7 linked regions of the Homo sapiens genome follow. The protein of the gene in region 1 purifies or fractionates together with the protein of each later gene. This does not show direct contact. Each region holds a gene or a part of one and is shown in the gene's direction. Other genes may lie near its edges. The genes, in order: CCZ1B, SPANXN3, FAM174A, SULT1C4, INF2, PUDP and DNAI2.

Region 1 (4,219 bases):
GGGCAACAGAGCAAAGTGCTGTCTTAGAATAAAATACTTTTTAAATAAACTAAAAACAAAACAATGGGCCTGGTGTGGGTGGCTCACATCTGTAATCCCAGCACTTTCGGAGGGCAGGTGAGGCAGAATAGGGAATGAGGGTAACCAAGGGTTAAGGCATAAACAAAAGAACAGCAGGTGCAGCCAGTTCTAGGCAAGATTAGGCAGCATAGAGGCCACGTGTTCATTCCCTCAATCAGAGGCTGATTGACGGACGACAGGGGGTTGGCCGGGGGGGAGGGTGACAGCTTCTGATTGACGGGGGGGCGGGTGCGCGTCTCCACTTCAGCCTCTGATTGGTCACAGGCCAATCCTTCAGAGGGTGTAACCAATCGGAGACCTCTAACGGGCACCTAGGGGCGTTACCTAATTCTTCCAGCTTAATGAAAATCCTAATGGGGGCTCTTGAGCTGTTTGCTCTGTCTTGCTCCTGCTCTGTGAGTTGTACTTTCGCTTCAATAAATCTGTCTATTCCTTACTCCGGTTTTTTCTTTTGTTTCTTTTCGTTGCTTTGTTCTTTTGTTACTTTGTGCATTGCATTTTGTTCAGTTCTGTGTTCAACAAGCCAAGAACCTGGGCAATCCACGGTCAAGACCTTCCATCCAGTAGCAGAGGCAGGAGGATCCCTTGATGCCAAGAGTTAGAGAGCAGCCGGGGCAACAAAGTGAGACCCTGTCTCTACTATCTATCTATCTATTTTTTAATTATCTGGGCATGGTAGTGCATGCCTGTGGTCTCAGCTACTCCTCAGGCTGAGGTGGGAAGATCCCTTGAGCCCAGGAGTTGAGGCTGCAGTGAGCTATGATGGCACCACTGCACTCCAACCTGGGTGACAAAGCGAGATCTTGTCTCTAAATTAAATTTAAAACAATACCACCAAAACAACAACAGGCTGGGCGGTGGTGTCTCACGCCTGTAATCGGAGCACTTTGGGAGGCCGAAGTGGGAGACCATTTGAGGCCAGGAGTTCGAGAGCAGCCTGGGCAACACAGACCCCACCTCTACAAAAAAATAAAACTGGCCTTGGTGGCGCGCGCCTGTAATCCTAGCTACTTGGGAGGCTGAGGCAGGGGGATTGCTTGAGTGTCGGACGTTGAGGCTGCAGTGAGCTGAGATCGCGCCACTACACTCCAGCCTGGATGACAAACTGAGACCCTATCAGAAAAAACAACAACAACAAAAAAACAGTGCCCGCTCGGTTTTTCCTGAAACGCGCAGCCCTCGCCTGTAGCCAGGAGAAAACTCCGCGAGCCAGCAAAACACAAACTCGGCCAGGAAACAGACAACAAGGCCACCCGGGGGTGCCTGAAGAGGACGCTGCGAGGCGGATTCTTTTTCCGGGCCTGCGGCGAGTGCTTCCGGGGCGGTGGCGACGGAGGCGGAAGTGCGGTGTTTTAGCCGGTGGCTGCTGTCTCTGGGCGGGCCGTGGGAGGCTCCCGAGGTGGGGGCCGGGGCGGGATGGCTGCAGCGGCGGCCGGGGCCGGGAGCGGGCCCTGGGCGGCCCAGGAGAAGCAGTTCCCGCCGGCGCTGCTGAGTTTCTTCATCTACAACCCGCGCTTCGGGCCGCGCGAAGGACAGGTATGCGGAGGGGGCGGCGCGCGGGCGGGCGGCGCCGGTGTTCCCCGGGAAGGTGGCCCTGTGGTTCTGCCCACCTCGAGGGGCACTGACCTAGCCTGCATTGTGCCAGGTGCGAGTCCGGGCAGGGGGCTGCGGCGGGGACCTGACAGCAGGCAGGGACCGCTTCAGGTCCTAGGTCGATGGAATAAAGCCCCGTCGGGTCTATATCACTCCACACCCCAGGTTGAGGCTCTTTGCGCTTTGCTTTGCGTCAGTTCTGGGAAATTAAAATTGAACTTGGCTTTGTTAAGTGGGTAGTCCCCAACTAGAAGCGTGGAACCAGGGTGGCAGACGCTAGCCTTCAAATGATGCAAGCCTGGAGGTCCCTGTAATAGTTTTCGCCCAAATGAGGAAATAAATTAATTTCGGGAGGGGTGTGTGTGTGTGTGTGTGTGTGGTTTTTCTGAGGTGGGGACGGCGACTTTCTCAAAGGATGTCCGGAGCTGTGTTTTGTTTCCAGCAAGTCAGACTTCTGTTAAAGACTGTCCAGGCTGGGCGCTGTGACTCACGCCTGTAATCCCAGCACTTTAGGAGGCCGAGATGGGAGGATTGCTTGAGGCCAGGGGTTCCAGACCAGCCTGGGCAACATAGCAAGACCCCCAACTCTACAAAAAAAAAAAAAAAATTGAAAAGTGAGCCGGGCGTGGTGGCACGCACCTGTATTTCCAGTTACTCAGGAGGCTGAGGCCAGAGGATCGCTTGAGCCCAAGTGATTGAGGCTGCAGGTGAGCTGTAATAGCGCCACTGCACTACAGCCTGGGCAGCACAGACCCCATCTCCAGAAAAAGAAAAAAAAAACAACTTGTCAGTTCAAATGGCTGGGAACTGACTGGATTTAATTTTCAGGGAGCTATGTGTCTGCAGATGGGCACACCTTTACTTCTTACAAGCATTGGTGTATTACAAATTAGCACTAGGAAAGAAACCTGGAGACTTGAGTTTTCATAAAAATTACCTGGTGCTACTTCAGATGTGACTTCTTGACTATCGAAATTGCCTTTCTGACTGGTGGGCAGTATTTGCACAATGATGAGATCATTCCTGTTCTTCTTCTTATTTTAAATAATAGAGACGTCTCACTGTGTTGCCCATGCTGGTCTTGAACTCCTGAGCTCAAGTGATCCTCCCGCCTCAGCCTCTGAAAATACTAGGATTACAATTCCTGTTTTTCTAAAACCGGTTTTTGTTTTATTTTGTCATTAGCATGTGTGACACAAGAGGTCGACATTGAACTTAGCGTTTTCAATAGCTAAGATGAAATGTTTCTATTCATGTTGTGCTTCTGTTTCCTCATGTTTCAGGAGGAAAATAAGATTTTATTTTATCATCCAAATGAGGTAGAAAAGAATGAGAAGATTAGAAATGTCGGATTGTGTGAAGCTATTGTACAGTTTACAAGGTAATACCTCTAAGTGTGCCTTTAGCGTTCAGTGAATTCTTAAAACTGCTGCTGGAGAATTGTCCCAAACATATTTTTTTAACCTTTGTAGGACATTTAGCCCATCAAAACCTGCAAAATCTTTACATACACAGAAGAACAGACAGTTCTTCAATGAACCAGAAGAAAATTTCTGGATGGTCATGGTATTTACACACACAGTGTATCTTTCTGAAATTGTATGGTGAAGTTATGGGTGATCTTTACTGTTCAGAATTTAGGAAAGTTCTCTGGCTGTTGCATCCAAGTAAAATTAAAATAAAATTGGTTGCAATTTTAAAATCAAGTTCTTCCTATTTGCTTTATTCATTCTTGGGGCTGTTTTAAGAAGTTGTGTTTCTGGTGCTGTAGCATGTTCAAAGTTTTTAAATTAAGGCAAAATAAACATGGTCTAATGAATTCATTGTATAATTTCAGTTTATCAAACTTTGTAGGTTGTTCGGAATCCTATAATTGAAAAACAGAGTAAAGATGGAAAACCAGTTATTGAATATCAAGAGGAGGAGTTGTTGGTAATGTGTCATTGTTTGTTTATTTATTTATTTTTTTAAATGTATTGCTGAGTATGTTGAATGCCTTACTTGGTCGGATTTAAACTAGGAGGCTTTTGCAGAAGTTTCTCGGGGTATATAGCAAAGGTTTATGTTTATCATTTACATGAGCACAATCTTTTTAAAATGTATATGCACCCAATCTCACTAATACCTTCTACTCTTCATCTATATTGAAAGCCCTCCTAAAGTAAGGCTTACTGATTGACAAATTAGAGTTTAAACACTTCTGGCTGGGAACAGTGGCTCACACCTGTAATCCTAGTACTTTGGGAGGTCAAGGCAGGCAGATTACTTGAGGTCAGGGGTTCGAGACCAGCCTGGCCAATATGGCGGAACCCTGTCTCTACTAAAACTACAAAAACTGGCCAGGGATGGTGGCGCACACCTGTCATCCCGGCTTCTCAGGAGGCTGAGGCAGGAGAATCGCTTGAACCGGGGACGCAAATGTTGCAGTGAGCCAGGATTGTACCACTGCGCTCCAGCCTGGACAACAGAGCGAGACTCCATCTCAAAAAAAAAAAAAAAAAAAAAGAACGCAAACACTTTTTTTCAGCACGCAACTATTGTGGGA
Region 2 (4,186 bases), on another chromosome or scaffold:
ATTTCTATTAAAAATCCTTTTTAGAATTTTGATTAGAATTGAGTTGAACTTACAGATGAATTTGGAATAACTGCCACTTTACAATATTGAATCTTCCAACCGAAAATCAAAGTATACATCTGGATTTTTGATGTCATTAACTTATCATTGCAATTTTTTTGTAGTTTTAAGTGTACAAGTCATTTACATTTTTGGTCAGATTTATCCCTAAGACTTTAATATTTTTAGTGATATTTTAAATTGCACTGTTCTTAGTTTCAACTTTCATTTGTTGAAATTAACTTCCAGTCCACCCTAGGACTACCATTAGCTGAAACACTGCCTCTTCTAATATATAAACATACAATTGATTTGTGTATTGATCTCTTACTCTGCAATCTTGCTAACCTCAATTATTGTAGAAGCTTTTTTATAGATTGACTTTTCTACATATACTTTCATGTAGTCTTTGACAAAAGACACTTTTACTTCTCCCCTTCCAAACTGAATGCATTTTTCTTTTTGCACTGGACACAATCTTCAGTACAAAGTATAACTATGCCCATACTGGTGCACATGTGGGTCTTAGATTGTAGCATCCTGCATGTAAACACTGAGAACAACTTCCAGCACTTGAATATCCACTCCTTCCCCCACCCACATACTGGCAGAATTCATGTTGGGAGACTACATTTACTATGAAAATACACCCCTCATTTGAAACAAGACTAGGATACACAGTAAAGAATGTTTATTCACTAAAATTTTGACAGACTGAAGGCCATTATTGCAGATTGGAAATAGGAAATTTAAAAGAACTACACGGACATTGAGTAAAATAACATGGGTTGAAATTTGCCTGGCAGTAGCCTAAAAGTAAATGGTCTTCAAGGTGCATATGAAGGAACTGTAGGAGGGAAATGGGATAATTAATTATTAATTATTAAATGTAACTAGTAATTAATAACTAATAATTAAATGTAGCCACACTAGCTTGGGGGATTTGAGGTGAGACATCTAAAATACTAAGTCATGGTGAGGGCTGGAAGACAAAAGAATGAATCACTTCATAGGAATGGCTGTGGGGAAGGGCTTGAAGGAATCATCCTCTGACTTCCATGTGAACCATGAACATTAAACATGGAGAAATGAGGAGCGGCGGCAGATCGGTTTGGGATGCATCTTCAGGGGATGCTGAAACAACAACCGCATTTGGTTTCCTCTACATCCCTGTCACCCCTCCCCCACAAGCCCAAGGAGTGGTCAGCAGTGGGGCTTTGTGATGTCAAAGCCACCTTAGGACCGCCATTGGCTGGGACACTGCCTGTATGATCAAACAAAGCTCAAGGGTGTGGCTTTGCCTTGTCACCAGGAGGGTATATATAGGGAGGGCAAGAGCTCTGGGACATCCCACTGGGAAGCTTCAACATAGCTGTGGAAGTCTGCAGTCTACAGGAGCCTACTATAGACATTCTACAACCAACCAGAATCATGGAACAGCCAACTTCCAGCACCAATGGGGAGAAGACGAAGAGCCCCTGTGAATCCAATAACAAAAAAAATGATGAGGTAAGATTGTCAGGTTTTGAAGGGAAGGTGAGGGTGAAAGAAAGACACACAGAGAGGGGGTGGCTCAAACAGCAACACAGGAATACTGCAGACACCTGTGGAAGTGGGGGACCCGCTTAATGCCAGAGCCCACCGCTGCTTACAGGCTGGGGTGCTTGTAGGTAGGGGTGGGAGGGGCCTGGGCAGTATGGCTTGCTGCCCGGCAGGATATTGATAAGATGTTTTTATGATCAGGCTGTTTGGTCCTTTTTCCAGTGGGATGTCATTGTGGTGTATCTTGAAACTTTGCCCAGCAAGATATGATAGGAAAGTTTCTTTAGTTGGACCTTTGTCCGTCTTGTGTTACGACGATTAGGCAAGATTTTTCTCATGGCCCGAACCCCCGTGGAATGTTTCACTTTGACCAAGGTCTGAAAAATAGCAGGGTGCTTACTAAATGGTGGTTTGGACTCACATTCTTGCCTTCTACTTTAGTATAAAAGGAAGAGGGGCATTGTTGATTATCTGGCTGCTTCCTGCCGAATAGGGGAGCTGTAATCAGGGTTTGGGTTTTGAAGCAGTGGGTGTTGGACTTCAGAGTTGTTTTCCTGGAGGCACTGGTACTGGACTTGGCAGAGGAGAAGGATGGTATCAATGTGTTGCTGGGTGGCCGCCTGGACAGGGGAGTTTAGCCTTCGGGAGATAAAGCGGGATATGAAGGTAAATATACATGGGCCAATTGTAGTATTAGGAGGAGGAAAATTAAGGGTCCTAAGAAAGGGGCCCCCTGCTATCTCAGTGCTGACTGCAGCAGAGATGTTTACTTCTGCTAACACTAGAATGAGATGTAGAGCCTGCTTAGTGTGTGTGGAGGAAGATGAGACAGAAGCTACTAAAGGAACCTGGATGGTCTGCTTGTTAGGCAAAATGTTAATGTTTAGGCTGAAACACCAGGGTGTATGTTCCTGACCATTTGGCCAGTAGGCAGAGATAAGAGTTTGTGGCACAAAAGAAGAAGACACTGGGGGTGGACAGACAAAAGTTGTAGGTTATGGTGGCAAGCCATGAGAAGGTGGGTGTTGAATTCTGCAGAAATTCTTTGTTTTAACTTTTATATTTTTCCAAGTTGAATAGCTGCCAGCAAGGGTAGCCCCTCTGACGGCCTGATAGGAAATGTTGGTGGTGGAGGAGATGGAGGCTGTTTGGTTTTGGAAAGAGAGGGGGAAATGGGTTTTTGTAACTAATAGCCATTGTAGCCCTGACAGGGCAGAAGGATATAGGTTGCACTTGAGGGAATTGTTTGTGCATGTTTTCCAGCGAGCGCCCTTGAGTTGGATAATATGAAGAGCGGCTCCAGCCAAGAGGGGAGGGGTTTCTAAAAGGTGTTTTATGGAATCCGTTTGTAACATATTCAGTTAAGAGGCTATGAGGCGAGGGAGGGTGACAGCCCTGTATGTGATGGTGTGGGTGGATTTGATGGATTGGGGGAAAAAGAGTTTAGCTGATCAAGATTATAAACAGGTTTGGGAATGAACTGGTCAAGTAGGTGAGATGCAGGCTTATTTTGGACCGAGTTCATGTGGCCAGGTTGACAGGAAGGGCTGTGAATTGCTGGATTTGTGTGGACAAACAAGTTTAACAGTTGGAAGGAAGAGGGGAGTGTGACTGATTTAAGAGGAAAGGTGTGAGGCTGATGAAGGGGGCTCAACTGTCAGAGGTTGGGGGTGGGGACTTAGAGTATCCCACAGACAAAGAGGACAAAAGAAGAAAGAGGAGATTTGAGTAGGAGTGAAATTTTGGAAGGTGCCCTGCAGTCATACCTCCTGGATTAGTATGACGAATTGGCATGGACTATTCAGGGACATGGGGAAGGGTAGCCAGGAAAGATCTGAAATAAAGTAGGAGATAAAAGATTGGAAATTGGAGACAGAGAGTGTTATGGACTAAGGTGTTCTGGATTGGCAACTTCTGGAATTCTTGTTAAGTACAGTGAGGTTGGTCCTGTCGGGGAAGGAGAATAATATGGGGGTGAGGAAATTTCTAGATGTGGGTCTGGTGCTCTTTTTAGTTTGGAATGGTGTATTCAGTGTGGAAAGGATGTTAGCTTTGCCCCAGTCGGAGTAGTTAGGATAACCTGGTGGGAACATTTCCGCTTAGGTTGGAAAGGGGAGGAGGAGGAGTCTGTGATTCAGACCCAGTCCCCTGGTTGTAGGGACAGGGCGGAGTATTTTGAGGATGGACTTTTAGGCTGGGTCAAGTAAGCATTTGTGTACTGTCTTATTAGATGTTGGGTGAGGTGTAACGCCGGCCAAGTATTCCATATAGAATGGGGGGAAAATACAGGGAGATTCTGGAGGATAAAAGGGCATTTGTACATGAGTTTAAATGGGCTTAGGCTGAGGAGCTTTTGGGAAATGACTCATAAATGCATGAGGAACAATGGGAGAAGTGAAGTCCAGGCCATTTTAACCTTTAGGGAAGATTGGTCAGTTGCTGTTTTCTAAAAAAGTTTCCCTGAAGATTCGGGGTGGTAAGGAATATGCAAAGCCAATTTAATGTTTACAGCCTTTACCAGCTGTTGGTTAAACTGTGAAACAAATTGGCCCGTTGTCTGACTGGATGCAAGAGGGGAGTTTAAACCGGTGGATAATATGGGTGA
Region 3 (3,434 bases), on another chromosome or scaffold:
AATTTACTAAGTATTAACTCACACGATCACAAGGTCCCACAATAAGCCATGTGCAGGCTGAGGAGCAAGGAAAGCAGGTCCGAGTTCCAAAACTGAAGAACTTGGAGTCCGATATTCGACGACAGGAAGCATCCAGCACAGGAGAAAGATGTAGGCTGGGAGGCTAGGCCAGTCTCTCACATTTTTCTGCCGCGTATATTCTAGCCATGCTGGCGCTGATTAGATTGTGCCACCCCAGATTAAGAGTGGATCTGCCGCTCTGAGTCCACTGACTCAAATGTTAATCTCCTTTGGTAGCACCCTTACAGACATACCCAGGATCAATACTTTGTATCCTTCAGTCCAATCAAGTTGACACTCAGTATTAACCATCACACTTGCAGTCTTCTATCTTTGCTGGCCACAGCTGAGGGATAGCTTGTCCTGCTTGGTTTTGGAGCACAGCCTCTATCCCTGCCATTCTTGCCAAAAGAGCGTCCTGTTAACAGACCCACTAAGATTATACCGTGTACTCCTGGTTCTGTTGCAGAGTTTGTTTGTTTGTTTGTTTTTGTTGTTTGTTTGTTTGTTTTGAGATAGATTTTGGCTCTCGTTGCCCAGGCTGGACTACAATGGCGTGATCTCAGCTCACTGCAACCTCTGCCTCCCGGGTTCAAGCGATTCTTCTGCTTCAGCCTCCCAAGTAGCTGGGATTACAGGTGCCTGCCACCATGCCAGGCTAATTTTCTGTATTTTTAGTAGAGGCGGGGTTTCACCATGTTGGCCAGGCTGGTCTCGAACTCCTGACTGCAGGTGATTCACTCACCCGGGCCTCCCAAAGTGCAGGGATTACAGGCGTGAGCCACTGCACAAGGCCTGCGGCATTTTTTTTGAGTCAACCAGTCTACCTTCTACAACTTCTATATCACCTCTCCAGAGAGTAGGAATCCTTAGCTACTTTTCTCATACCATATTGATTCTCCACTTTTTTCAGACTGCTGTGGAATTCCTGAGAAAGAGCAACTGAGGGATAGCAACATGGATTTCACTGAGTAGGTGGCAATTGAGTTAAAGTTATTTTTTTAAAGATATAAGTTAATCAAATAAGAGCCTATGAAGGCCCAGCATGGTGGCTCATGCCTGTGATCCCAACACTTTGGGAGGCCAAGGTGGGCGGATCACTTGAGGTCTGGAATTCAAGACCTCGCTTAAGGCTGGAAGACCATGCTTAAGGCTGGAAGAGAATTGGCTTAATTCTTGATAAGTTAAAAATAATTCCAATTGGGCATATAAATAAGAATGCCTTCTTCAATATTACATTTGGTCGTGGTTGAGTCATGCCAGGGAGGGAGTGGGGAGTGGTGGTTCCTACAGTAGCCCCTGAACAGCATGAAAACATCCAGAATAGAATTCTGAGGAAATTCCCACTCAAGGAATGAAATACTCTAAATGAGAGAGCTGGTCATACAGTCTTATAAATATAAACAGGTTCAAGGAAATGTTGGGCACAATGTAATATGATTGCTAGATCATAATAGTTATGCTAATTTGCATATGTTTTGAGGTTAATTACGAGTCTCAAAACGCCTTTCTGAAACCATATCTTAAGAGACTCTTTATGTGGTAGGTAATTTTCTATTTGAAAAAAATCTTTTAGATATTCCTCAGGGTCTCATATATAGTCAAGTTCAAAAGGCTATTTAGTGATAGAATTTGGATTAGGTTCTAGTAATTTTGTGTTCTCCTAGTTTATGAAACTGCAATTTTGATTTTACAGATTGACTTTTTTTCATAGTCTACAAATTCATTATCAGTATTATCATGGGTTTCAAGCGTTAAAAGGACAAGGGCTGTACAAAAGAATTCTAAGTGTTACATGTTTTTTTTTAATAACCTTCAGTATATTTTTTAAAGGATTAAATTTACTTTCAAAGTAAAAATATATTAGAACCTCATTATCTTATACTAATCATTTAGAGAACTATTACAGACTGCTGACTAAAGATTCAGATAAGATGAAAAAGAGCATTATTCATTTTCAGATGTTTTTCCAATGAAGTTCTAAATGTTATTGATGATTATAAAGGAAGATTTATTAAGTTTGTAAAATATGCACATTTTGTTTTTTTTTTTAATTTGGTTTGATCAAATGCTTTTCATTACGATGGCTCTTACTAGCAGAAATATTTTTGGAAGGCAGGATTTAAATTAAGTAGTAGTAAAGTTGTATAATTAGAATTAAAATCTATAAAAATTTGTATGTCAAAATATAGTTTTATATTATAATAAACTAGTTAGGCAATAAGAGAGTAAATGGGCAAACTTGCCCCATTGTAGTGTTTATTGGAAATCTTGTCTTTAGTATGGATAATTTTTGTTACCGTATTATAAATTTCCAAAGCATTGATTGTTTTATAGATTATACCTAGTAGCTTGTAGCTTTAGTAATCCTCATTTCTGAAGGTTAGAAATAGGAACAAATAACTGTATTTATAGGAACCATAGAAATGAATAACTGTTGTTGGCTCTTGAATAACATGGGGGCTAGGGGCACCAACTACACAGTCAAAAATCCACGTGTAATTTTTGGACTCCCCAAAAACTTAACTACTAATAACCTGCTGTTAACTGGAAGACTTACTAATATCATGAACAGTCAATTAACATGTATTTTGTATGTTATATGTATTATATACTCTATTCTTACAACAAAGCATGCTAAAGAAAAGAAAATGTTACTAAGAAAATCATAAGGAAGAGAAAATATATTTACTGTTCATTAAGTGAAAGTAGATCTCATAAAGGTCTTCATCCTTGTCTTCACGTTGAGTAGGCTGAAGAGAAGGAGGAAGGAGGGGCCGATCTTGCTGTCTCAGGGGTGGTAGAGGCAGAAGAGTTGAAGCAGGTGGAAGGGGAGGCAGGCACACTTGGTGTAACTTTACAGAAACACATCTGAGATTTTTGCCTTTTGATTTCTCTAAAACTGTTTCTATTGGTACCAATTCTTCTTCCACAGCTTGCTTTAGTTTTAGTGTCCATATCATAGAAAGGTCCATGTCATAAAAGAAGTTGAAAGCAGTCTTGAATAATTGGAATTCTTCTGCCACATTGACTACTGCCAATTTGTTTTCTGGTACAGCTTCTTCTACATCTTCTTCCTTATCATGTGGCACTGGTTCAGAAGCACTCATCTCCATCAAGTCATTTTCTGTTCATTGTTCCATTGTAATGTCAGTTAGCTCTTGAATTACTCCAAGATCCTCATCTTGACATCTTTTATTACCGATTTTTTTTTTTTGCAATATCCACAGTTTCTTTCATGATTTCCTTGATTGGCTCTATTGTAAATCCTGTGAAGTCATGTGCAACATCTTGAAACAGTTTCCTCCAGCAGAACTTACTGTTTTGCACTTGATGGCTCTCAAGTCTTTTTCAATAAAATAGCAGCATCTTCA
Region 4 (3,500 bases), on another chromosome or scaffold:
GGGGGAAACAGAGAAAGGCGAAAAATTGAATACTAAGTGCTAATGGTCAATATCAAGTTCAAGCCCTAATGGTTCACTCATTCAGCCAACAAATACTAAGTGTCTCCTACGCTATGCAACTGGGAAAAAGAGAGTTTGAAAATCATGTAGTCATTTCTCTATAGCAGATCACAATTTGGGGAGAATGTCCTTTCTAAGGACAATACAGCTAAATAAATAGAACAATAATAACAATCCAAATTAATAGTTGTGACAGAAAAAAATAAATGTATATTTATCAGTCTAATGTCCATTCAAAATTGGAGTATTTTTTTAAAATCATATTATGATAATAAGATATAAATAAGGAATGCTATCTTCTGAATCCCATTTAAAACCTAGCTTTTAAATTCACATAGATGGTCCAGGCATGGTGGCTCACACCTATAATCCCAGCATTTTAGGAGGCCGAGGCGAGCAGATCACTTGCAAGCAGATCACTTGAGCTCAGGAGTTCCAGATCAGCCTGGGCAACATGGTAAAATGCCGTCTCTACAAAAAGTATAAAAATTAGCCAGGGGTGATTGTGTATGCATGTAACCCCTGCTACTCAGGAGGCTGAGGCGAGAGGATCGCTTGAACCCAGGAGGCAGTGAGCCAAGATTGCACCATTGAACTCCAGCCTTGATACAGAGCAAGACCCTGTCTCAAAAAACAAAACAAAACAAAACAAAACAAAAGACATAGATGTTCTAACAAGTATTTGATCATATTTTAAGGAATGTACTATACTAGATGTCTATTCATCTTCATTTTACGTGCACGTAAGGAACAACATGGACTCAGGAGATAGTGGAATTAATACAAAATGAAGGTGATGTGGAGAAAAGTAAACGGGCACCGACTCATCAACGATTTCCTTTCCTCGAAATGAAAATCCCATCCTTAGGATCTGGTGAGTATAAATAGCCACACTTCACTACAGTCCTAAAATGCACTTAGGATTTTTACTGTCTTTGCACCTTTCGAAATTATAGGCTTTCAAACAATTATTGGTAAGTTTCATGGTTTTGTCTTTTTTTAACTGTGTCTGGCCATTGTTATACTCCAGACATTTTCTAATGGAATTACTGTTTGTACAAAAGTGAGTTAAATTTTGTTTCTCTAGTTAGAAATTAATTTTACTTCAAAAGAATAAGCTCAAGTAAGATAATCCTGGTGAAAGGGTTTGAATTTTTTAGGTTCTTATTTATTTGGATGACTGTTATGGTTAGGAATTGTTCTAGTCAAAACATCTATTCATAGGCTAGACGTATTCTCTCACACCAGATCTACAGTTACAATGTTCTTATAGATGCTTTGAATTGTAGTAGTAATAATGGAAGCAGCAAGACTTGGAAGCAAATAGATAAAAAAAAAATCGTAGAAATTGATCGAAAACCAGTTTTGCAGGTTTGGAACAAGCTCATGCAATGCCCTCACCACGGATCCTGAAAACACATCTTCCCTTTCACTTGCTGCCACCATCCTTGCTAGAGAAAAACTGTAAGGTAAAAAAGCAAAAGGAATTCAGAGTTGTACTCCTTAAAACAACCTTAGTCTTCCATTTCCTCTTAAAACACTTCACTTGTTAAATATATATATATATACCTCTTCACAATAATCAATATGCAAATTAATATGAATCCTAGCCAGGCACGTTGGCTCATGCCTGTAATCACAGCATTTTGGGAGACTGAGATGGGTGGATCAGTTGAGGTCAGGGGTTCAAGACCAGCCTGACCAACACGGCGAAACCCCATCTCTACCAAAAACACAAAATTCACAGGACGTGGTGACACATGCCTGTAATCCAAGCTACTCAGGAGGCTGAGGCAGGAGACTCGCTTGAACACAGGAGGCAGAGGTTGCAGTGAGCCAAGATAGTGCCATTGCACTCCAGCCTGGGTGACAGAGCAAGACTCCATCTCAAAAAAAAAAAAAAAAAAAAAAAAAAAAAGTCTCCCATAACCAGGATGACAAGAATGCAGCCTCAGAAAAAATGAACTGTATGAAATGTATCTACCCTAACATGACTTGCCTGGGCAGTAACAGCAAAAAAAAAAAAAAAAAATTCCTGTTTTTTTGCTTCTTCCCTTCCCCTCCCCTCATCATTCCCAGATAATCTATGTAGCAAGAAATCCCAAGGACAACATGGTGTCCTATTACCATTTCCAAAGAATGAATAAAGCTCTTCCTGCTCCAGGAACATGGGAAGAGTATTTTGAGACTTTTCTGGCTGGGAAAGGTGAGAGAATTTAGCTTTGTTTCCCTTCGTTTCTCAAAATCTCCAAACACCCTAGAAGGAAAGAATCTTTTCTTTTGACCAGCAGGGGCTCTGCCTTCTTTAATGGAACATTCTCACTTCTCTTCAGGAATTCTCCTTTCAGTGGTATAATAGGACCTCTGTGACTCATTGTCCTGTTTTCCATCCCATCCTCCAGTGTGCTGGGGCTCCTGGCATGAACATGTGAAAGGATGGTGGGAAGCCAAAGACAAACACCGTATTCTCTATCTCTTCTATGAGGACATGAAGAAGGTGAGCACAGTGCCATCTAAGGTGTACCCACTGGACCATAAAACATTTAAGTCATAATGCATTGACCCCATCAGGGACTCAGATTGATGCGGGGAACCGAAAATTGCTGCACTTCATTGGTTACAGCTGTCATTTGTCAAAGTGCACATGGCTGATCATGAGTTTAAGTATCACACAGTCTCACCTGCAGCTTCCTGGTGCTCCCAGGGATGCTGCACATTTCCCTTACAGGCAGGTTATTACACAATATGGATGGTGTCATTTTCTCCCTTGCATGTCTATTTTAAAATGCAGTTTAGCAGGAAAAAAAATCCTAGCACATTTTGGTTTCTTTGGTTTTTGGGTTTTTTTTGTTTTTGTTTTTGTTTTTGAGACAGAGGAGGAGTTTCACTCTGTCGCCCAGACTAGAGTGCAATGGTGCGATCTCAAGTCACTGCAAGCTCCGCCTCCCGGGTTCAAGAGATTCTCCTGCCTCAGCCTCCGGAGTAGTTGGGATTACAGTCGCCTGCCACCATGCCAGCTAATTATTTGTATTTTTAGTAGAAACCGGGTTTCACCATGTTGGCCAGGCTGGTTTTGAACTCCTGATCCCAAGTGTTCCACCCTCCTCAGCCTGCTAAAATGCTAGGATTACAGGCATGAGCTACCATGCCCAGAGTTTTTGTTTTTTTATTAGCACTGAGGAACATAATACTTTATTTATTTATTTATTTATTTATTTATTTTATTTATTTTTTGAGACGGAGTCTCACTCTGTCACCCAGGCTGGAGTGCAGTGGCGCGATCTCTGGCTCACTGCAAGCTCCGCCTCCCGGGTTCACACCATTCGCCTGCCTCAGCCTCCCACGTAGCTGGGACTATAGGCACCCGCCAGCACGCCCGGCTAATTTTTTGTATTTTTTACTAGAGACGGGGTTTCACCGTGTTAGCCAGGTCTCAATCT
Region 5 (3,500 bases), on another chromosome or scaffold:
CCAGGCAACCACCTGTGTCACTCCAGAGCAGCCCATGCAGACAGACAACTGCCCAAGGGCCAGCCTGGACCCCGGAGCCCTCCCAGCCAGTCGGCCTGGGTCACAGCCTGGGTGGAATGACCAGTGTGGTCACAGCCCAGATGGGATGACTAGCGTGAAGGCCCTGAGGACCTTGCCACGCCAATGGCCAAGGGCAAGGGCCAAGGCTGCTTTCCTCTTTCGCCTGCAGCTTTTCCCAGAGGCAGCAGGGAGGGAGAGAGAGGTACCAGGAGAGTCCTGAGAGAAGGGCCAGCCTGGGCTGCCCCGAGCCTCTGTGCCCTCAGTTCACTCCTGTTCTCACCCCAGAAGGGTGACTGGCCGTGGCTGGGGCACCCTCCATCTCCCTCAGCCCCAACCTCTGTCTGTTGGAAATGGCATGGAGACCCAGAAGGAGCAGATGGGCACCACTGGAGGCCTGGCCAGGCTCCTGGCCGCCGATCAAGGCCTTTGCAGGGTCAGAGGGACATGGGAAGATGCTGCCAAGGCCCCTGGCCCTGGTGCCCTGGGCAGGGACCCTGTGCTCCCGTGCTGTGACAGCGTTATACCACCCCACCTGCTTCCTGTGACCTGGACACAGTCTGAGCACCCCAAGGTCCAAAGTGGGAGAGGTGGGGTGGGGGAGAGGGAGTGGGGTGGATTGGAGGGCTGTCCTACTGTTACAGGGCTCTGCCCCGGGCCCACCTCACAGTGAAGGCAGAGGCCCCCAGGCAGCCCTTGGTGGGCCAGAACTCAACCAGGAGCCACACTGGGGGCGGAGGGCAGGCTGTCTGCTTCCCATTTTGCAGACGAGGGCTAGTGTCAAAGCCTAGCTTTGAGGCTAACCCAGGGCACAGTTGAGGAGGGAGGGAGAGGGAAGCAGTGGCCGCTGAGCACACCAGCCCCGGGTAGTGGCTTTTCTGTATCATCTCCAAGCCCCCATTCAGCTGCTGTGGGCAGAGGCCAGCCCCAGCCCCTCGCTCTGCCCAGCGAGTGGCCAGCTGCCCAACACGCATGGAGTCCCAGTGGGCATGGCCAGTGGTGCAGGGGTTTGTTCGTGCCTGAGCTGTCCTGGCCCTCGCCGGGTCGGGGGTGGACGTGGCCAGCTGTGCGAGGAGGGCCAGCATCCCACTGGCCTCCATCTCCCCATCTGTACCTGGGTCCTTGCAGGCCCTGGGACATGGCCTCGGTGTACAGCCTGCCTGCCCCACCCTCTGTGCCCCCGGGTCCCTGTTCCTGCTCCAGGCACAGCTCAGACTGTCGCCTGCACCCAGCCTACGCTGGGAGGAGGACACAGGGTGGGGGTGAGGGAGTAGCCACCTGTCCCCACCTGCCTCTGCTTCCACCTTGTGCACAGACATGAGTGGCCTGAGAACGGGAGCCCCTTGGGGACACCCAGGGCCCCTGCCTATGCTTCCATGTGCAGAGGGCCCCCCCGGCTGCCCCTTCCCTGGGCCAGGCCAGGCTGTGGAGGTGCAGGCCCAACAGTGAGGGGCTGCCTGCAGGAGCTGGCAGAGCCATGGGCCGGACCCAGGAGGGGCCACACGGGCGGTGCTGGCACAGCCAACCCAGGTCAGAGCTACGGGGCCCTGGAGAACATCCTGGCCATTTTACAGATGAGAAAACTGAGTCCAGAATGGGCCTGGCTGTCCCAGGCCCCTGGCACCCTCGTGTCCCAGCAAGCATTGCCAAGCGGCATGTTGCACCCACGCTGAGGATCTTGTTTGCCCAGTTGGGCCTGACGGGCTCCCTGGCACTGGCTGCCTGGAGCAGAGGTCAAGAGACGCTGAGCAGGGGCTGGGAAGATTCATGCAACGTCCTAGCTCCGTCCCAGCCGCCAAACAGGAGGTGGGCTGAGTGGGAAGGCGGGCGGTCAGTGCGTGGTTATGCACTGGCATTACAGGTGGCATCTCGTCAATCTGTCAGTAAGCTGTGGGGGTGGCATTGACACACTCATCCGCATTTGAGGACAGGAACCAGGAGATCCTATGGGTCACAGGCCGGTCAGCGGAAGAGCCCAGTCTCACCCTGAATCAGAGCCGTCCCCCACCCTGGGCCCTGGTAGCAGCCCCTGGCCGTGCTGGGTGCGCAGGCTCAGCCTCTCCCCCACTCTCAATCTGTCTTTGTTCTCCCTGCTCCTGGGAAGGCAGCTGCTAGCGGGGATGTAGGCTGGGGGCAGGGACCATGGAGCCTGGCTCGTGGGCAGGCAGCGGGCAGCCGTCTTGTCTTGGCACAGGCAGGGTGGGGGCTGGACACCCTGGGGCCCAGCTAGGCACACAGCAATCAGGACCTGAACCCTGAAGCCGGGGCCTGGCTCCAATGAGCTGCTGCCCTTCCCCCTCCCAGGTTGAGAGAGGCTTTTTCTGAGGACAGAGGAGGGACCTGGGGCCTCGGAGGAGGCATCTCTGAGTATGTCTGGTCCGGGGGGAGGAAACCCAGGTGGGAGGATTCTGGTGACGAGCTCCTGGCCACCTGCCCTCATTGCCCAGCAGACCCCCTGCAGGGTACGTCTGGGGCCTGCGATAGGCCAGCCCTGGGCTCATGCCACCTGCAGGGCCTGATCAGGCCCTGTGCCCTTCCCAGTCCCTAACCACAGATCTGTACACGTCACTCCCAGCCACAGCCATGGTAGGTGCTGGCAGGCCCTCAGGCCCAGGAAGTACTTCCATGTAGCCGCTCGTCCCCCCATGCCTCTCCCTGGGCCCCCAGACTCCAGCCCAGACCCCTGAGAACGCCAGAGGTGACCAGGCCCTCAGGGAGCACCCCGTTGGCCCTGCTGTTTGTGCAGTGGAGACACTGTGGCCTGTAGAAGGCCCATTCGGTGACTGGCGAGCCGCCCACCCACCCAGGCCCTGCACACCCTCAGTGCAGGTGGAAGCGAGAGCTGGGCTTCCTGGCGTGGGGCCTCCGCCCTTCCTGTCCTCCCTTGCCTGGGCTGCGCTTGCCGACTCTCCTCCCAGTGACCCCTCCTCCCAGTGAGCCGGGGCATTTCCTGTTTGCTGCATCCCCCTACCCCCCCTACAGAGTCACCCTCCTCCCTGTGGCTTCCACAGGGCTCTGTTCCTAACCCAGGAAGATGTACCTTCCCCAGGCCCATTGTCTGCCCCAGATCCTGGGGACACAGAGAGCCCAGCTGTAGCCTGGCTCCCGGGCCAGTGGTGTCCCCTGGCGTTCAGTGCTGGCCAGCCCGGACCCCCCAGCCACCTCCACCGACACTTGCCAGAGTGCCATGAAGGACCCCTGGCCCCCAGCTCTGCTCTCTGGGTGACCCAAGCAGGGGCTACCACCGCTCTGAGCCCAGCTTCCCTCTGTGAGATGTTGCTGTCTTTTGATCATTTTGCTTGCTTTCTTCCTCAGTATGAAACGACCATATTCATCCGAGATGCAGCTTCAGTTAGTGATTGGGCAGGTGTCCCGGTGGTATCGCACCCACCATGTGATTGAAATCCGTCACCATGCGGCCTGCTTCCCATCTTTGTCTTCTG
Region 6 (3,500 bases), on another chromosome or scaffold:
TACCTAGATATCTGTCTCTCTGCCCTTCCTGTAAACCCACGGAAGCACACCAAATTCTAGGAGCTGGGAACTGGAGTTCATTTATACACATAATTAACCAGCTTCTCCCTAGAACAGAACTCCATTTGCATTTTTTCGTCTTTTACTTCTCAGGGAAAGCCACTGAGTGAGACAAAGTTTGTGTGCACTCTTTAAAAGATGAAAAACTTTGTGAAGGCATCAGGCAGTTTTGAATCAGGTGATTAGGATCGTTCATTCCTGATGATACACTGGAGCTATATCTGATGATAACGACACTACCTAACATTTATCTGGGGCTTCCTCACCCATGTCATTTTCCAGGCATTGTTCTTCTTGTGAATTAATTCCATGAGGAACGTTAATCATTGCTCTTTGACAGATGACAAAATTGAGGCCCAAAGAGGGCGTATAATTGACGGATGTCCCGTAATCTCTGACTGTGGTCATAGTCTTGTCTTGGCTTTCATCTTCATAGGAGTCCCAAGCATTTTGGAGATCTCAGTATGTTGTGGTGGTGTAAAGCAGTCGTCCAAAACCGTTTTTGATTCATTCTCCATCAATAAGAATGTTGAGCTGCATTCCAGTCTAGACACATTGGTGTGTGTTTGTTTATCTACTCCACCTTAGAAATAATTCACAGCAATAGAAATGCAAGAAGGATAAGCTAAAATAAAATAATCGGCCGGGTACAGTGGCTCACATCTCTAAGCCCAGGGCTTTGAGAGGCCGAGGCAAGAGGATTACTTGAAGCAGAACTTCAAGACTAGCTTAGCTAACATAGGGAGACCCTGTCTCTACAAAACATAAAAAAATTTACCAGGCATGGTGACATGCACCTGTAGTCCCAGCTATTCGGGAGGCTGAGGCTGGAGAATCGTTTTGAGCCCAGGAGGTCAAGGCTGCTATGATTGTTTGACTCTGCTCCAGCCTGGGTCACAGAGCAAGATCCTGTCTCAAAACAATAATAATAAAATAATCTGTTTAAGTTTTTAAAATTAATAGCACCAAAGTACTTTAAGAAAATTTTTATACAGTGTGTTTTACAGAGCCATGTGTTTAAGTGTGCTCCATTTTTTAAAATATTGGTTTAAAATTGTGTGATCTAGCAATTTAAAAATCTTGTTTTAAATTCAGATTGTTTTGATACTCAGCTTTAATCACTGTTTATATCCAGACAGAAGTTCATGATTGGCTAATTTTTTTTTTTTTTTTTTGAGATGGAGTCTGGCTCTGTCACCCAGGCTGGAGTGCAGTGGCGCTATGTCGGCTCACTGCAACCTCCACTTCCTAGGTTCAAGCGATTCTCCTGCCTCTGCCTCCCAAGTAACGGGTTACAGGACGCACTGCCACACGTGACTGTCTCTTTTTTAAAAAAATTAGAGCCTTTTATCTCATCCATCAGTTAGGTTAAGGTTTAAATTGAAATTTAGCTAATAAATATAGTCCTCTGTGATACTAATCAGTGGTTGTTGCAAACTAATGAAATAGTGTGGCATTTTAGTATTTTTAACTAATGGATTCAAGTTCTGTAGAAGCTCTTTAGGTGGAGTACTTCTACACTGATTGAATATTGTTTTTATGCGTGGAGGTATGTGTATGTATGTTCATGAGATCTGTCGTTTTCTTGTCTGGCTTTTGTCTGGTTTTGGGATCAGGGAAGTGCTGATGTAAAATGTAAAATGAGTTGAGAGGTGTTCCCTCCAATTTCCTGAAAAGTCTGTTTAGAATTGGCATCCTTTTTTTCTTGGGAAGTTGGTAAATTTACCAGCAAGGCCATTTGATCCTAGATGTGGGAAGGAGGTTTTTAATTACAAATTCAATTCCTTTCATAGGCAGAAGGCTATTCAGGTTATTTGTGTCTTCTTGAGGGAGTTTTATATCTTTCAAAGAATTATCTCATTTCATCTAAATGGTCAAATGTGTTGCCATTAATCCTATAATAATTAAGTTTTTATCATTTTATCGATGTTAGAATCTGTAGTGATGTCTGTCCCCTCTTTCCCTGCTAATGTTAGTACATTTGGATCTTCTTTATTTTTTTGATCAGTTTAGCTAGGAGTCTACTAATTTAATTGCTCTTCTCAAACAACTCGCTTTTGATTTAGTTGGTTTTCTGTATTCTACTTTTATTTCATTGATTTTCTCTCTCATGTTTATTATTTCCTTCCTTTTATTTGTTTTGGGTTTAATTTGCTCTTTTCCTTCACTTTCTTAAGGTAAAAGCTTAAATCATTGAACTTCTTTCTTTCAGGTTTTCAATGTGGCAACTTAGATCACTTATTTGAGACCTTATTATTTAACATATCACTCAATGCCATCAGTTTTCATCGAAGCAATGTTTTAGCCACATCCCAGAAATTTTGGTAGTTTTTAGTTCTCTACAAAATATTACCTAGTTTCCCTTTGTGATTTCATCTTTGACCCATGTCTTACATAGAAGTGTAACATCCAAATATTTGTGATTTTCCACATTCCTATTATTAATGTCTATTTTAATTCTACCATCGTTAGATAAGGTATTCTGTATGATTTTAAGTATTTTATAATTTTTGAGAATAGTTTTATCCTTATAATAGGATATTTCTTGTTGAATGTTCCACGTGCACTTAAAAATAATGTGGTTTCTGCTGTTGTTGGGAGAAGTATTACATAAACGTCAATTAGGTCAGGTTGCTTGACAGTGGTTCTGAAGTCTGCTGTGTCCTTACTTCTTTTCTGTCTACTTGTTTTATCAATTACTGATAGAGGAGTTTTAAACTTCCTTCTACGTTTGTGTTTCTCCATTCAGTTCTATTGGTTTTTGCTTTATGCATTCTGAAGCTCTGCTATTTGATGTTTACACATTTAGAATTATGTCTTATTGATGAACTGATCTATTTGTCATTATGAAATGTCCCTATTTATCCCTGATGATAGTCATTCATTGTTCTAAAGGCTTGTTTGTTATTAATGTAAGTAACCTGGCTCTCTTTTGAGCAATAGTTATGTGGTATGTAGTTTTCTATCCTTTTATCTTCAATCTATCTGTGTAGTTATATTTAAAGTAGGTTTCTGTAGACAACATGTAGTTGGGTCTTTTGTTTTTCTTTTTTATTCTGATAGTGTCTATCTTAGGTGTGTTTATAATACTTATAAAGCCGTTACATAAGGTCATGATCTGCTAATTCCATCTGTCTCTATCATTTCTGTGTCTATTTCTCCTGATTGTGGGTGGTATTTGCTTCTTTGCAGCATGGTAATTTTTGATTGAATGTTAGACACTATGAATTCTACACCCAGTGGAGTGCTAGATTTTGCTTGATTTCATTTGCTTTATTTAACTTTGTCCTGGAACTACATTATGATCTGTCCATGCCTTCCTTTTAAAAATCTTTAGAGGGTCAGGTGCTCCAGATATCTGTTACCTTATCCTGAATGACTGTAGGTGTTCGGAAAAAATGAGTCTGTTGATTGTTTTGTGTAACAATTGACAAAGTAGG
Region 7 (3,151 bases), on another chromosome or scaffold:
GGGGCCTGGACAGGGGTTGGGTGGGTTGGGGACTGGGCGGGACACATGGCACTTGGGTTCTGCTTCTGCTTGCCGACTTCCTGGGTGACCTTGAGCAAGTAGTCTTACCTGCTAGATCTTAATTTATTCACCTGGCAAGTGGGAAGAATTATTCCCTTCCTTCCAAAGCATCCCAAGTCTCCAAACAGACTTCAGGCTCCTTACAGGCAGGAACCATACTCCATGCCTCCTGGTATCCTCCCCTCCCCCCAGAGAGGGCACATGGTGAAAATGCGTGTTGAGTGACTGAACGAGGGAACATGTGTGTTGAGTGACTGAACGAGGGTCCTAGAGGTAAGTGAGCTGTCAGAGAGGAATGGGCCTTGAGACCCCTGGAGGGAAGGGCTGGGACATTAGCGGTGTGCACGTCATGCTGGCTTACCCAGGTTTGGTGTCAGGAGTGTGACCTGTGGTCAGCTCATCTGCCCATGGCCCCAGCTCTAAAGCACTTTCTAGCTGTATCACCTGAGCTGGTCGCTTCACTTCTGGCTTCCTTCATTTCCATCTGGAAAATGAGGAGATGTTGCTATAAAGATGGTGTCTGGTCATCTTCCAGGCCCTCTTTTGTACCAGCGGAGAGAGGAAGAAAAGACATTGCCTGTCTGGGTCACCTCCTTCAGGCCCCACAGATAAGATGCCAAGATATGAAAGAGCCAAAGAGCAGCGTGGAAGGGAAAAGAAACAGCGGGTATATGCCAGGATTTACCCTTGTAGGCAAGACTGGCTGCAGACTTGGGGATTGCAGGCACTGCAAAATGAAAATGTGAGGGCCCTCGTTTAAAAAGTATTAATAATTTTAAAACAGTGACAATAGAGCGTTAAACCAAGCGTGGGCCCTGCTGAGACAGGGTCCAGTGTATCTGCACAGAGCACCCACCCATGACGCCTGCTTGAAGAAGAGCTGTATGGCAAGTTCTTGGTCCCTGATAGAGTGGACAGAGCGAAGGATGGTGCATGAGCACACAGGGAAGATAACTGGTTCCATCTTGTGATTTCTTCCCTCTTCTGCCTCCCTCCCCCTGGGTCTAAAGCTGTGATTTCCACAGGTGCATTTTGCATTTGGGGGTACTTGGTTATGAGATGTTTTCTTCTCACACTGGGTAATACAGGTGGGGCAGAGAGCTCCCTCCACTTCTGGTGGAGGCAAAACTAGAATCCTGGATTCTGACGCCTAATCCAGGGCTCCTCCCACTCACCACTCCTGGCCTATCCAGCCCTGCAGAAGGCAAAGATGACACTGGCCACCTTTTACAACGCAATGGTGGCTGGTAGGCACCATGCTTTGTGACATATGTCCCAAAACGTGCTCCTCACCATGGCTTGAACATTCTACATGAAGAAGTTGAGCCTTGGAAGGGGTTCAGGTTCACAGAACTTGGCCCCTTCCTCCTCCTGCCTGCCACACACTTCCTGTCTCTCTCTTAGTCTGCAATTGGCCCAAAACGCTGGTGGTCACAAAGTACCGCGTGGTACTGAAGCTGTTTTACATAGGCTGGGTCCTTATGCCCACTATTTCTAATCCTGGCCACAGCCCTGCAAGGTGTCCTGTCCTCTCTATGGGTGAGGGGGCCAAGGAGACTCAGGAGGAGCTAGCCCGAGGCCTCCCAGTCTGCATGTGGCAGAAGCCAGGCGTGAACCCAAGTCTGCCAGATTCCCCCAGCTCTGCCCACTTTCCGCACTGTCTGGGCCCTCACCAGCCGCAGAGCTGGCACCCGGGTTCCAGGGTGCTCAGCGACCCAGGCTTCAGCCATTTGGCTGCTTTGGTCCTCGTGGGGTTCACATCCCAGGGGAGTGGGGAAGGCCTGTCCCCTACCAACACCAACACTTCTGTGCTGTCTTCCCCTGCAGCAGCAACCAAGTCCAGAAGAAGACCAGGTGGTGGAGGAGGGAGAGGAAGCAGCGGGGGAAGAAGGGGATGAAGAAGTGGAAGAAGACTTAGCCTAGAAGTCAGCCTTCGACTGCGGCGCTATCCCTGTGTGCCTTCCTTTCCCACCTCTTGGTATTGCCCCGCTCTCACAAGTGGGAGGCTGAGCTCCGCCTTAAAGCAGCACTGGGTGGTGGGCTGGGAGCATCGGGCCCTGACTCCCCAGCCCCTACAAATCACTAGCCCCCACTGACTCACTGGGCACTGAGTCCTGAGCCACCCCTTGGAGAGAGGGAAGGGGCGGGGCTTGTCCCGGAGCTGGCTGCCCCATTGTCTCAGCCACCCTGAGCCCACCCCAAGGCCGAGGCCACCTTAGTCCTAGTCCTGGATGTCTCCTGGGATTCAGCTTCTCACAGGCTCCCCAGCAATCATTTTCGTTTGTAACCTTGCAGACCCTCAACCAGACTTGCATGGCCATGGCAGGGCCTCGGGAAGACCTTCAGGAGTGGGGAAGGGTTTCTCCTCCATGATCGACCCTCCTCGTCCACCTACAAATCAGGAACAGAAAGTCTGTCCACTTTGAAAATACCTTTCCAGGCAGCTCCCTGACCATTTGGACACATTGCCACGACAGGAGCCTCCAAGTATGTGGGAGGGGACGGGCGGGACGAGCTTGGCTGTTCTGCTGCACCTGAATGCTTTCTGTTATCCTAATTCTTGTAAAATTAAATGAATCGTAACAATGCCACGAGTTAGTACGTGTGATGCATCCTGCACCCAGAGCCTGTCACGTTATCTCGTGTAACTCATTCACGACATCCCTGGAACTGTGTGCTCCCATCACCTTTATACTACACAGGAGGTTCCAGGAGCGGTACAGGGACGTGCCCAAGTCTCAGAACTCGTGACGGGGCACAGCGGGGACGGGAGCCCAGGCAGCTCATTCCTGACCCTGCACGGTCATCAACTGTGGGCCAGGTGCTGTGCAGGCCTCTCGGGGACTCCAGGGTGGGAAGTGGGCTGCCCTGGGGGTGCCCTGAAACCGCAGCTCAACAGAGCAGTCAGTGACCATTACCAGAGACATTGGGAGGTCGAGAGGGCACTTCAGTGCCAACCTTGCACAAGGAACAATGCCCTGACCATCATCATCCTGTGGATGGCAGGTGACCTTGGCAGGGACCCAAAGTGCCCTTGAAAAATGCCCTTGAAAAATGTGTTGGTCAGGTTTCGTGGCTCACGCCTGTAATC

The links.
Region 2: the proteins of CCZ1B (region 1) and SPANXN3 purify together in Homo sapiens (co-immunoprecipitation; one large-scale study listed by IntAct). This does not show direct contact.
Region 3: the proteins of CCZ1B (region 1) and FAM174A purify together in Homo sapiens (co-immunoprecipitation; one large-scale study listed by IntAct). This does not show direct contact.
Region 4: the proteins of CCZ1B (region 1) and SULT1C4 purify together in Homo sapiens (co-immunoprecipitation; one large-scale study listed by IntAct). This does not show direct contact.
Region 5: the proteins of CCZ1B (region 1) and INF2 purify together in Homo sapiens (co-immunoprecipitation; one large-scale study listed by IntAct). This does not show direct contact.
Region 6: the proteins of CCZ1B (region 1) and PUDP purify together in Homo sapiens (co-immunoprecipitation; one large-scale study listed by IntAct). This does not show direct contact.
Region 7: the proteins of CCZ1B (region 1) and DNAI2 purify together in Homo sapiens (co-immunoprecipitation; one large-scale study listed by IntAct). This does not show direct contact.

The regions. Positions count from the first base shown.
Region 1 is NC_000007.14:6,823,476-6,827,694, reverse strand, and holds the start of CCZ1B (vacuolar fusion protein CCZ1 homolog B), read left to right. Parts: upstream 1-1,419; 5' UTR 1,420-1,497; coding exon 1,498-1,617; intron 1,618-2,957; coding exon 2,958-3,055; intron 3,056-3,146; coding exon 3,147-3,240; intron 3,241-3,528; coding exon 3,529-3,606; intron 3,607-4,219.
Region 2 is NC_000023.11:143,514,676-143,518,861, reverse strand, and holds the start of SPANXN3 (sperm protein associated with the nucleus on the X chromosome N3), read left to right. Parts: upstream 1-1,386; 5' UTR 1,387-1,470; coding exon 1,471-1,548; intron 1,549-1,967; exon of another isoform or gene 1,968-2,172; coding exon of another isoform or gene 2,173-2,247; intron 2,248-4,186.
Region 3 is NC_000005.10:100,580,374-100,583,807, forward strand, and holds part of FAM174A (membrane protein FAM174A precursor), read left to right. Parts: intron 1-973; coding exon of another isoform or gene 974-992; exon of another isoform or gene 993-1,031; intron 1,032-3,434.
Region 4 is NC_000002.12:108,380,954-108,384,453, forward strand, and holds part of SULT1C4 (sulfotransferase 1C4), read left to right. Parts: intron 1-758; exon of another isoform or gene 759-808; coding exon 809-934; intron 935-1,431; coding exon 1,432-1,529; intron 1,530-2,139; coding exon 2,140-2,266; intron 2,267-2,462; coding exon 2,463-2,557; intron 2,558-3,500. UniProt on the Homo sapiens protein: Sulfotransferase that utilizes 3'-phospho-5'-adenylyl sulfate (PAPS) as sulfonate donor to catalyze the sulfate conjugation of phenolic compounds.
Region 5 is NC_000014.9:104,692,618-104,696,117, forward strand, and holds part of INF2 (inverted formin-2), read left to right. Parts: intron 1-3,500.
Region 6 is NC_000023.11:7,078,654-7,082,153, reverse strand, and holds part of PUDP (pseudouridine-5'-phosphatase), read left to right. Parts: intron 1-3,500. UniProt on the Homo sapiens protein: Dephosphorylates pseudouridine 5'-phosphate, a potential intermediate in rRNA degradation. Pseudouridine is then excreted intact in urine.
Region 7 is NC_000017.11:74,312,234-74,315,384, forward strand, and holds the end of DNAI2 (dynein axonemal intermediate chain 2), read left to right. Parts: intron 1-421; exon of another isoform or gene 422-595; coding exon of another isoform or gene 596-727; exon of another isoform or gene 728-1,307; intron 1,308-1,887; coding exon 1,888-1,983; 3' UTR 1,984-2,038; intron 2,039-2,355; 3' UTR 2,356-2,651; downstream 2,652-3,151. UniProt on the Homo sapiens protein: Part of the dynein complex of respiratory cilia.